2 separate regions of the Homo sapiens genome follow, and region 2 is linked to region 1. The links come from fine-mapping of genetic effects on gene expression. Tissue or cell type: whole blood. Region 1 holds a variant in brackets; the other region holds the start of a gene. All regions are shown on one strand. Distances are between the middles of the regions.

The links. PIP is the estimated chance that this variant, and not a neighbour inherited with it, causes the effect.
Region 2: it holds the start of MAD1L1, and the variant in region 1 is fine-mapped to the expression of MAD1L1 in whole blood (INTERVAL, PIP above 0.99).

What each region holds. Positions count from the first base shown.
Region 1 is chr7:2,048,390-2,053,647 of GRCh38, forward strand. All of the region lies in intron 12 of MAD1L1 (mitotic arrest deficient 1 like 1), which reads right to left. Among named protein-coding and RNA genes, the nearest start is that of SNORA114, 38 kb to the right of the region's middle. RefSeq lists an enhancer at 1,077-1,680. The variant A/G (reference allele first, on the strand shown) is at 2,178.
Region 2 is chr7:2,231,021-2,236,020 of GRCh38, forward strand. MAD1L1 (mitotic arrest deficient 1 like 1) reads right to left here and starts at 1,925. Exons shown (of 19, transcript NM_001013836.2): 1 at 1,852-1,925. It overlaps MRM2 (mitochondrial rRNA methyltransferase 2), which reads right to left. Exons shown (of 3, transcript NM_013393.3): 3 at 3,175-4,544. The coding sequence ends at 4,102. RefSeq lists silencers at 1,424-1,843, 1,821-2,199 and enhancers at 1,834-2,128, 1,914-2,043, 2,778-3,310.

The DNA of each region.
Region 1 (5,258 bases):
ATTCTCCAAGTGAGTTTTAAGTGAGATGATTAGAGGGATGTTAATGAAATGAGAAGTTACTCTGACGAATGCCAGCAGTGACCGCTATACATCGAATGCCCACTCACTGCAGGTCCCATGCCAGGTATTTAACATAGGATTTGTCAGGAAATAAATTTGATGAATGGTAATAAGCATCAACCACACTGCATAAGGCCTGGCACAGGGCAGGCAGGTGGGTCAGCCAGGAAGGGGCTGTCCCATAGGATGTTGAGTGATGGCCAAAAAGTCCCCCTCCGCCCCTCTGTGAAGAACCTCCTCCAAGACGAATGCAGAAAACCGCACTCAGCTGAACGGAGCTGTGATGGGAGCCTCCCGAGCCTGGCTGAGCCCCCTGTGCCACACCCCTCCAGCTTCAGGTGCTCTCCCCACTCCACAGTGACTCACAAGCCACCACTCCCACTTCCCCAAGCCAGCGCCAGGCCTTCTCGAGGCGAAGAGCTGTGCCGATTGTCACACTTGCCTGTGTCCAGCCACTGACCGCGTCAACCATGCTGCCATTTTCATCAGGGTCCCATCTTATTTTTAATGTGATTTTGTGTAGCAGGGTGACTTTTAGGAACACACATCACCTTAGAATAGAACTAACCATATGTTTGTTGAGTGAGTTGATGATGAACTACCTCACACATATATTTGAACATTACAATTTAAAAATATTTTCAAAGCATTCCCTCATGTAATCTGTGAATCGGCTCCCCGTGCAGATGGGGTGAGGCGTGCATGCTTCATTCTTCCAGAGAGGAAGCAAAGGCAAAGAGAGGGAAAGGGAGCTGGCGCCAGGCACAAGTGAGAGAGTGACAGAGCTCAGGTTCTAACAGGTTTTCTGATTCCAGCTCCTAGGCTTCCTCCCCCTAGAAGAGAGGAATTCCAGCAGGGCTGGCCTCAGGCCTCCACCTCCCTTCCCGGTGCCCCGCCCAGGGTCAGACCCTCTCCCTGCACAGTGGGGGCCCCCACTCCATGGCCTCTGCTGACTCGGAGCCGACTCAGTAGGTGGCTCATGCCCACCATGGGTGGCAAAAGGCTCGGGGGCAGCTCACCAGCTCACGGGCCTTCTGATGGCACTCAAGAAATTTAGTTTAAACACACACAGATTTTCAAAGAGGCGGTAGGAGGAAGGACTCACCTAGTCCGCCCAGGGGCCTCCTGCAGAAGCAAGATCTGTGCCTGGACCTCACAGACACCTGGGTCCAGCAGCATCCCCATGTCTTGCTGGAGGGCAGGAGCCACCCAAGGGGCACTGGGCACTGCCTGGCGTGGGTGGCCAGACTCGCTTCATCAGCACCAGTGTCCAGGAGGACTATCGAGCACTGTAATTCCCAGGGCACCTCATCCAATGTCTGCAGGCACCAGACCACAGGTTCACAGGGCACCTCATCCAACATCTGCTGGCACCATCTGCGGGCACCAGACCACACGTTCACAGGGCACCTCACCCAACGTCTGCAGGCACCAGACCACACGTTCACAGGGCACCTCACCCAACATCTGCGGACACCAGACCACACGTTCACAAGGAACCTCACCCAACGTCTGCGGGCACCAGACCACACGTTCACAGGGCACCTCACCCAGCGTCTGCGGACACCAGACCACACGTTCACGGGGCACCTCACCCAGCGTCTGCGGGCACCAGACCACACGTTCACGGGGCACCTCACCCAGCGTCTGCGGGCACCAGACCACACGTTCATGGGGCACCTCACCCAGCGTCTGCGGGCACCAGACCACACGTTCACGGGGCACCTCACCCAGCGTCTGCGGGCACCAGACCACACGTTCACGGGGCACCTCACCCAGCATCTGCGGGCATCACCGCCCCTTCCACCTGTTGCACTCCTACGAGAGCTAAGCCAGGTATGAGGCCAGACCAGAAACCAGAGACCAGGATGGAACCTCACGCGCCTGCTGGAAGCAGGGAATCCCCTAGCCAGTGCCTCAGACCCATGTCCACACCCACACGGGCAGACGGAAGCACCAGGCTGAGGGTGGTGAGCCAGGGGGTTCCTGGGCCGCCTCCACTCTGGCTGGTGTCAGGCTGTGGCTTGACCTTTCTGGCAGCTCCGTTGAAGCACCCACAGAACCATGGAGACCACAAGCCAACAGTGGCCTATCACCGGCCTGGAGAAAGTCCAGAC[A/G]CTTCACACCTTCTGACTGAGGCCAGGGACCTCTCCCAGGACCATGGACACAGGGACCCAGGCACCCACCCAGACTGTGGTGCAGGGAACTTACAAGGCTCTTGGGTGTGCCGTGACACCAAGGACAACTGAAGGGGCAGAGGCTGCGGAGGGAGCAGCCCAGTACCCCCGAGGGCGGCTCAGTCCTCAGCAGGCCCACCCACCTGTGCCTCACAGGCCAGGAGCAAACACACCTGTGCGGAACGGCCAGGTGAGGCTGGCTGTCACCTTTAACATCTCTGAATGTCTCCAGGAGGGGCCTAGAGAGGGTTCAGACACCACCACCAGGATGCTGCAGCTATTTTTAGTAGAAAGACTCAAGAGGCTTCCTTGGCAGGGAACCATGCCTTTGAGCATGACCATCAATTTTCACCTGCAGCTAACTTCCTTTCCTTTCAAGATCAAGGTTATTCAAAGATTTGGATTTCTTCGAAACTGAGTTTAAAGAGAGCATGTTTCTCTACCAAACAGGATAGGGGATTTTAAAGCACAAACAAGGACAATGTCAGGCCAAAGCCTGGGTAGGCAGGACAAGGTTCCGGGCCTGGTCCCTCCAGCCCTTCCCAGACACCCTGCAGGCCCTGCTTGTGTCCCCCCGAGGCTGGGCTAAAGCCACCTGTGCCAGCTGGATGATGCCTGGCCTGGGCACTGGAGGAGCCTCCCTGGGCTCCTCTCTAAGCCTCGGTCTCTCTGGTATAAACCTCCAAAGCTGAGGGGGACTGGGAATTCCACAGCCTCTCTCCTAGCAGGACACTCCAGGTTTCTCGTCCATAACCCACGTGGTGCTGTGGAGCCTTGGCCTACAGGACAGAAGGGGCTCCTGGGATCTGGATGAAGTGGTGGCGAGGGGGGCGCTGACCTTGTCCTTCAGGAAGAGCCACGTGGCTCAGCAGGCAAGATCCAAGACGTTTCAACGTGGTATGTTAGAAACTCACACTTAATGCAGAAAAGCCCAGGAACGAGACATTGAAACCGCACATGAAGACTGGGCCTTCCCTGCATCCGCCGGGTCACCTTGCTGTCCCCCACCTCCCCCACCCCCCCACCAGCTGCCCTGCGCCTGCCGGGTCACCTCGCTGTCCCCTACCTCCCCCAACCCCCCACCAGCTGCGCTGTGCCTACTGGGTCACCTTGCTTTCCACCCCCCACCACCCCCACCAGCTGCCCTGCGCCCGCCAGGTCACCTTGCTGTCCACCCCCCAACCCCATCCCCCACCAGCTGCCTGGGGCCCCTGAGGGCTCCTCAGAGCCATGGACAAGCTGAGCAGCAGGTGCCGTGTCAGGCTATACCACATGGGGTGCCAGAAACTGATTTCACTGGGAAGTCTTTTGTTAGGAGTACTCCAAGGGCAAGCGTCCTCTGGGAAGCGTGTTGGGAATGGATGTTTACAGGGGCGTCAGGCAGGGAAACAGCCAGGCGGAAAGACAACCATTCATGCAGAGTCAACACCTGTGCACCCCCTGCATTCCACGAAGGAGCCCCCGGCAGGCCAAGACCCACGCTCCGCACACATCAGAGAGGAGGGGCTGGCCTCAGAGAAGCGAGAGCAGGAGCAGGGTGACCACGGACAAGGGCAGAACCCTATCGTCCTCGCCACGCGCACAGCCACAGCTCCGCCACAGCCAGCCATGGCATGACTCCATATGCCAACAGGCTTCCCTGGCCCCTTCATGTGAGCAACAGAGCACAGGCAGCGGCGTAGTAGGAGCCCCAGGCCTGCCGCCACCACAGTTGGTAACAGCCTCAGGAAGACCACACAGACAGAATGCCCAACAGACAGCAAGCAACAGCACCCAGGAGGGCGCCGGACAGCTCACTAGGGCCCAGGCACAGCAGGCAGGGAGGGCGCCGGACAGCTCACTAGGGCCCAGGCACAGCAGGCAGGGAGGGGGCTGGACACTCACTGGGGCCCGGGCACGGTGCCCAGGGAGGGCACCTGACAGCTCCCTGGGGCCTAGGTATACAGTGGAAACCCTACTTACGTTTATAAGTCCTTATATCTTACAAATAAATGGGTGTGTTCATTATTGGCCGCAGGTCATACCTATCCTTTTTAAACAAATATGCACGTATCAGTGTGCAAATTCCACAGTTTTTATAAAGGGGTACACCATCAAAATAAACCTGGAGCAAACAGCTGGGACACAGCTACGGCAGCTGGCATGGGCATGGCCCTGGCGCCACAGACTGCTGCCCGGAACAGACAGAGGAACCGGGAGGGAGCTGGGGCCCCAGCCTGGAGCATGGGGGAGGGAGGCGCTGGACCTCCGGGGCCATGGGGAGATAGGAAGCCATGTGTCCCCAGCAGGACATGTGGGAGGAGGAAATCCAGAAGGGAGAGCTGCCCCAAGTCCCGGGACAGCGGAGGCTCCTCCACCAGCCTGAGGAGGGAACGGGTGGGTGCCGCCTCCAGTGCCTGCATCTGAAGGCCGAGCCGTCCCTGCCCTGGCACCTGCTCCCAGCCACTGCCTACCCTCCTGCTCTGCCACTGACAGCTACACGTCTTGCGACTTTGGTTGTTGGGAAAGTTGAAAGCAAGTAACACCCTCTTCCACATTGCTGACATTAGCTCAGGCATCAGAAGCAGAAGCCTCGGGATCTGCTACCTGGTAGCAGGCCCTTCCTGAAAACCGGTGAGTTTGGGGGCCGCGGAGGCCCATGCAGACGGTGAGGCTGGGACCAAGAGTCCTCCGGGCGGGGGCAGAGCACAGGGCAGGTGAGGCAGAGGCAGGAGAGCTGCTCCCTGGCCACTCCAAAGGCCTCAGCACCTCCTGTAGGTGAAGGAGTCCAATATTCACCAGGCATTTACTCAGAGCCTGCTGTATGCAAGGAACTGTGCCAGCCGCCGGTGAACAAGGGAGAAAAGGGCCTGCCTCAATGCTATGAGCCGGACGCCGGGGATGATCTGGGTTCCGGGAAGTAGAGAAGCTGTGTGAAGGCCCCAAGGCCCTGGCGGGCGGCAGGAAAGCAACGGGGAAGCAGAGGAGGCTGCAGAGGTGGGGCCCATCTTCCCCGCACAGCACGTTCCAGCCAGGGCCTGG
Region 2 (5,000 bases), 180 kb after region 1:
CTGGCCTCTTGCCCAGGCAGGGTGGTTCACGCCTCTAATCCCAGCACTTCGGGAGGCGGAGGCAGGTCCGGAGTTCAAGACCAGAATGGCCAACATGGCAAAACCCCACCTCTAATAAAATACAAAAACTAGCCGGGTGTGGTGGTGTGCGCCTGTAATCCCAGCTACTCAGGAGGCTGTGGCACAAGAATCGCTTGAAACTGGGAGGCAGAGGTTGCAGTGACCTGAGACCGCACCACTGCACTCCAGCCTGGGTAACGGGGTGAGACAGTGTCTCAAAATAAATAAATGAATGAATAAATAAATAAATAAACATAAGCCAGGCACTGTTGCTCATGCCTGTAATCCCAGCACTTTGTGAGGCCAAGATGGGCAGATCACCACAGGTCAGGAGTTCGAGACCAGCCTGGCCAACATGGTGAAACCCCATCTCTACTAAAGCCAGATGTGGTGGCGTGCACCTGTAATCCCAGCTACTCCGGAGGCTGGGACAGGAGATTTTCTTGAACCCAGGAGATGGAGGTTGCAGTGAACTGAGATCGCGCCACTGCATTCCAGCCTGGGTGCCAGAGCAAGACTCCGTTTCAAAAAATAATAATAATTAATTAAAAAAAAAATCTGGCCTCTGGGAATCAGAAACGAGGCATGCAACAGTGACAGTAAAGATGATGATCATCACAGCTGTGCTCATTTTCATTGTTTATTTCTAGTGACATTAATAAGTACTACTACTATTTTCAACTAGGTATCAGAAAGAAAGGTATCTGACATTTCCGAGCACCGAGACTTCTTGAACTTCAGTTTCCTCATCTGTAAACTCATGACAGTGAAATCTACTTGCAAAGTTGTGGGGAACGGGGCCAATATCCCTCAAGTCTTCCACCGCTAGATGATGGGAATACGGCTGCAGGTTGACCAGCACTATATTTGTAAGCTCAGTCTCAACAGGGTGGTGAATTAGGTCTTTTTACACAGATTCTAGAGATGATGAAACCGAAGCTTCAAAAAGTTACAGAACGGAGATTGGAACTTGGGTCTGTCTGGCTTTGGAAGGCTGAAGACAAACCGCAGTAAAGAACTTTGCACCCCCAACACCGGCGCTTACTATGGGCTCATGGCAGGCCGGCCCACCAGCCACAACTAGGGAACAGCCAAGCGCGTTTAAAAGCCAAAGGTAGAACTTCTGCAGCTGCACAGTTTCTGAGTTTCCATTTAACAAGAACCTTGGCCTGGTGCAAGCAGAGGCCTGAGCTCCCCAGGCTGCCAGCCCCGCAGAGGCAGGCCCGCCTGGAAGGAGGCTCCACAGCCCAATTCCTCCATTGCCCAAACGAGATCAGGGTGGCCCTTGCCATCCCCGAGGGGAAACCGGGCCCACACGCCCCCTTCCTGAGAGCGGACCGGCGCGAGCCACCAGGATGCCAAGAGCCCCTGCAGCCCCGACTTCTCCACCAGGCGCCAGCTCAGGCCCCTTCCTCGGCGCGCCGGCACCCTAGCCCGGGGACCCACACGGTAGGCAGCGGGACCCCGGGGCTGGGACCACGAGCACGCGCCCCTCGGCCGCCCGCCCTGGCACAAGGGACGGCTGCGGAGACCCAGGCGAGGGGCCCGCTGTCCCCAGCACAGCCCAAAGGGGGAGTGGGGACAGGGGAGTGGGGAGAGGAGGGGAGAGCACAGAGAGGAGAGCGCGCCCATGGGAGACGGGGCGGGCGCGGGGTCCTGAGGCACGGGGTCTGGGTCGTTGTGCCCCACCCTGGCGAGCACACCCGGTCCGGGCCCTCGGCCCCTCCCTTGCCATTCCCGGGACCCCCGGGACCCCGGGACCCCGCCGCCCGCGCGAGCCGGGCCGCTTACCTCAGCCGCTCGCAGCCAGCTTGCCGCCGCCGCTCGGATCTCCCTCCGCTCCGCCGGCGCCCATTTATCGCGACACTTGCGCCTGCGCTCTCGCGAGACCTGCGTGGCAATCGGGCCGTAAAGAACCGAGTCTGCGCACCGGCTGATCCTGGGGACTCCGCGTCCGCACCCGGAGCCGCCACCCCTGGGAGACTCCGCACGGAAAGGACTCGGAACCGAAGGCTGAGCCAAGGCGCAGTCGGGGGCCCCCCGGCTTTGCGCAGGACGCGCTTCCACTAAGGCTTTCGCCTCGCGCCGTAATGTGTGGAATAGCCGCGCCCACGGCAGCCTCCTCGGACAAACTTGCACCGTTGACTCTTCCCAAAATTTTGCTACTCAGTATCAGCTTGAATCAATCCGTTATTTTGCTTTTTTCTGGGCCCACTAGAAATGCAATTTATGCTACTAGGCTACCTTCCCAGTGCTCTGCAAGCCAGGGCACAGCATCCAATGGGGTGAGGTCAGGCCCCACCATTATTATGGTAACCTTTGTCTATCCTTCAAATTGGAGCCTTCCTGAGAAGAGTGTGCCTTACTCGTTTCCATATTCTCTTCCTCTCCTCCTCCCGTCTCTGCCCAGCCCCTGGCTTCCCTCTAAGAAGATGCTGTTCCTAAGGGTCTGCAATGAATTTTCCTTCTTTCAGAGAAAGACTTCCAAGTTGTGTGCCCCGGGAATGAAATGGAATAAGAGAACGAGGTGGAGTAGGGCAAGAGTCCCTGGACTTAACAACCTGACTGCAACCAGAAATAAAATGAAAAGTCAAAACATCTGGCGGCCGGGCGCGGTGGCTCACGCCTGTAATCCCAGCACTTTGGGAGGCCGAGGCAGGCGGATCACGAGGTCAGGAGATCGAGACCATCCTGGCTAACACGGTGAAACCCCGTCTCTACTGAAAATACAAAAAAAAAAAAAAAAAATAGCCGGGCGTGGTGATGGGCGCCTGTAGTCCCAGCTACTCGGGAGGCTGAGGCCGAATGGCGTGAACCCGGGAAGTGGAGCTTACAGTGAGCCAAGATCACTTCACTGCACTCCAGCCTGGGTGACAGAGTGAGATTCTGTTTCTCAAAGAAAAAAAAAAATCAAAACATCTGACCCGCAGTTTCCTTCGGGGAGCTGGACAGAGCCCCAGATTCCTGATGGAGATTCCTGGGTTTCCAGACTTCCCCCACTGGTCCTTGGAATTTAATCATAGTCAACAAACTCTTCTTGAGGGATGAGTACACCTCCAGGAAATGGCTTTGAGGAAGCCAGTTTAAAAAAAACAAAACTTCAAAGCATGAAAGTACCTTAAAATAATGCAATCTCTATTATTTTATTAAATATAAAGCTGCGTCAAGTTCCTAGATGAGTAAAAGAAAATAAACACACCACATCACTGCTTGCTTTGGCAATTACATTTATGTTCTTGGGAGCCCAGACACTGATATAAATTTCCAGCAAAAACCAAAGCAGACCCACTGCCTGGATAAATTCAGACCATACGTCTTCCCTAATTGTTCCGGGAACTTTTGCTGCTTGAAGAATGCGTGAATTGCTATATTGTTCACCAGAAAGACAGAAGTTAATCCCCAGATGGAAATTTCAGATTTTTCTTTTGGTTTGCTTTTTGGTTTTTCATTTTTGTAGACATGGGGGGTGTTGCTATGTTGCCCAGGTTGGTCTTGAACTCCTGACTTCAAGCAATCCCCCAGCCTCAGCCTTCTAAAGCCCTGGGTTTACAGGCATGAGTGGCCTCACCCAGCCCCCAGATTTTCTACTTTAAACAGCCACACTAAGAACTGGAAATCTGTGCGTGGTGCTCTCAGAGCAGGGGTGGAAAGCCTGTTTGTGTGTGACAGTTTAACAGTCTATAAGATGAAGTCCCGTCAAGGCACACATGGGCACACCCATCCCTGCCTCGGCGGATTCCTTCTGATCCTTCCCACAGTCTGTTTTTCTCCATCCTTCCATCCTCACCTCTTTCTCTTGATAACTTTCTCTTCCCAAATCACAATATAGCGGACTTTTTCATTTTCCATGGCCCCTGAACTTAGTTTTGTCATCTCTTTTTGGTTAAAAAGAGAGAGAGAGAAAGAGAGAGAGAGACTCCCCACTTGTCCTGCTCCATCTCCAAAATCAGCTCAAATCTCCCAGGAACTCTTCAGGAGCTCAGGCTACGTTTCTAGCTTAAAAGGAGCTAATGACCATTATGAAAATGGCACAAGAAATCCTCACTGCTTCACAGTGCCCTTCCTTCCGTGGTACTGTGTGGCCAAGAAGTACACTTCTGATGACTCTTTCCTGCTGGCTTCAGGTTTGATGATCCTTACATTCTGGAATTCCTCTGTCAGTCTCCTCTGTAACCGACGGCTTTGACTTCCAGCCCAGGTTTTACAAAGGAATGTCCCCCCAGGTTGCAGGATGTCTGGGGTCACGCTGAGAAGGGTCAGGCACAGGCTGATGAGCCTGTCATGATCGAGGTCCCGGAACCCTGTGGCATTGGGCGCCATGTCGCTCAGAATCACATCTGCTCTCCTGCCAGGAAGCACCTCGAGGATTCTCTGTGAGGTTCTCGGGTCAGTCACGTCAGCAGGGCACAGAAAAGTTGCTCCTTCCAGGGGGAATATGTGAAGAAGATCTACCCCAAGCACGAAGCCAACAGGAGAGCTGGGATCTATGGAAGAAATGGTGAATGTGTTATTTATTTACACCCTGAATCTTTTTACAAAAATACAGTACATGCAACAAAGTGATGAAATAAAAATAAAATGTCAAGACCAAGGCAAAGAGCTAATGTGCAAATAGGTAAACACAGGCCTTCTCTATCTATACATCCTATAAAGACACATGGTGGAGATGGCGGGCCTTAACATCTGAGAAGCTGAGGCCCAGACAGGAAGTGACTGTCCTAGAGTCATCCTCAGCCATGGGCAGACCTGTGCCAGGCATCAGGACTTCTGATTCCAAATCTGGTATCATTTCACTACCCAAGGCTCACTCTCTGTGAAAGGGTTCTTATCTCTGAGTGCTCTTTTTGATAAACTAAAATAGAAAATAGGCCAGTCCCAGTGGCTCACACCTATAATCCCAGCACTTTGGGAGGCTGACACGGGTGGATCACCTGAGGTCA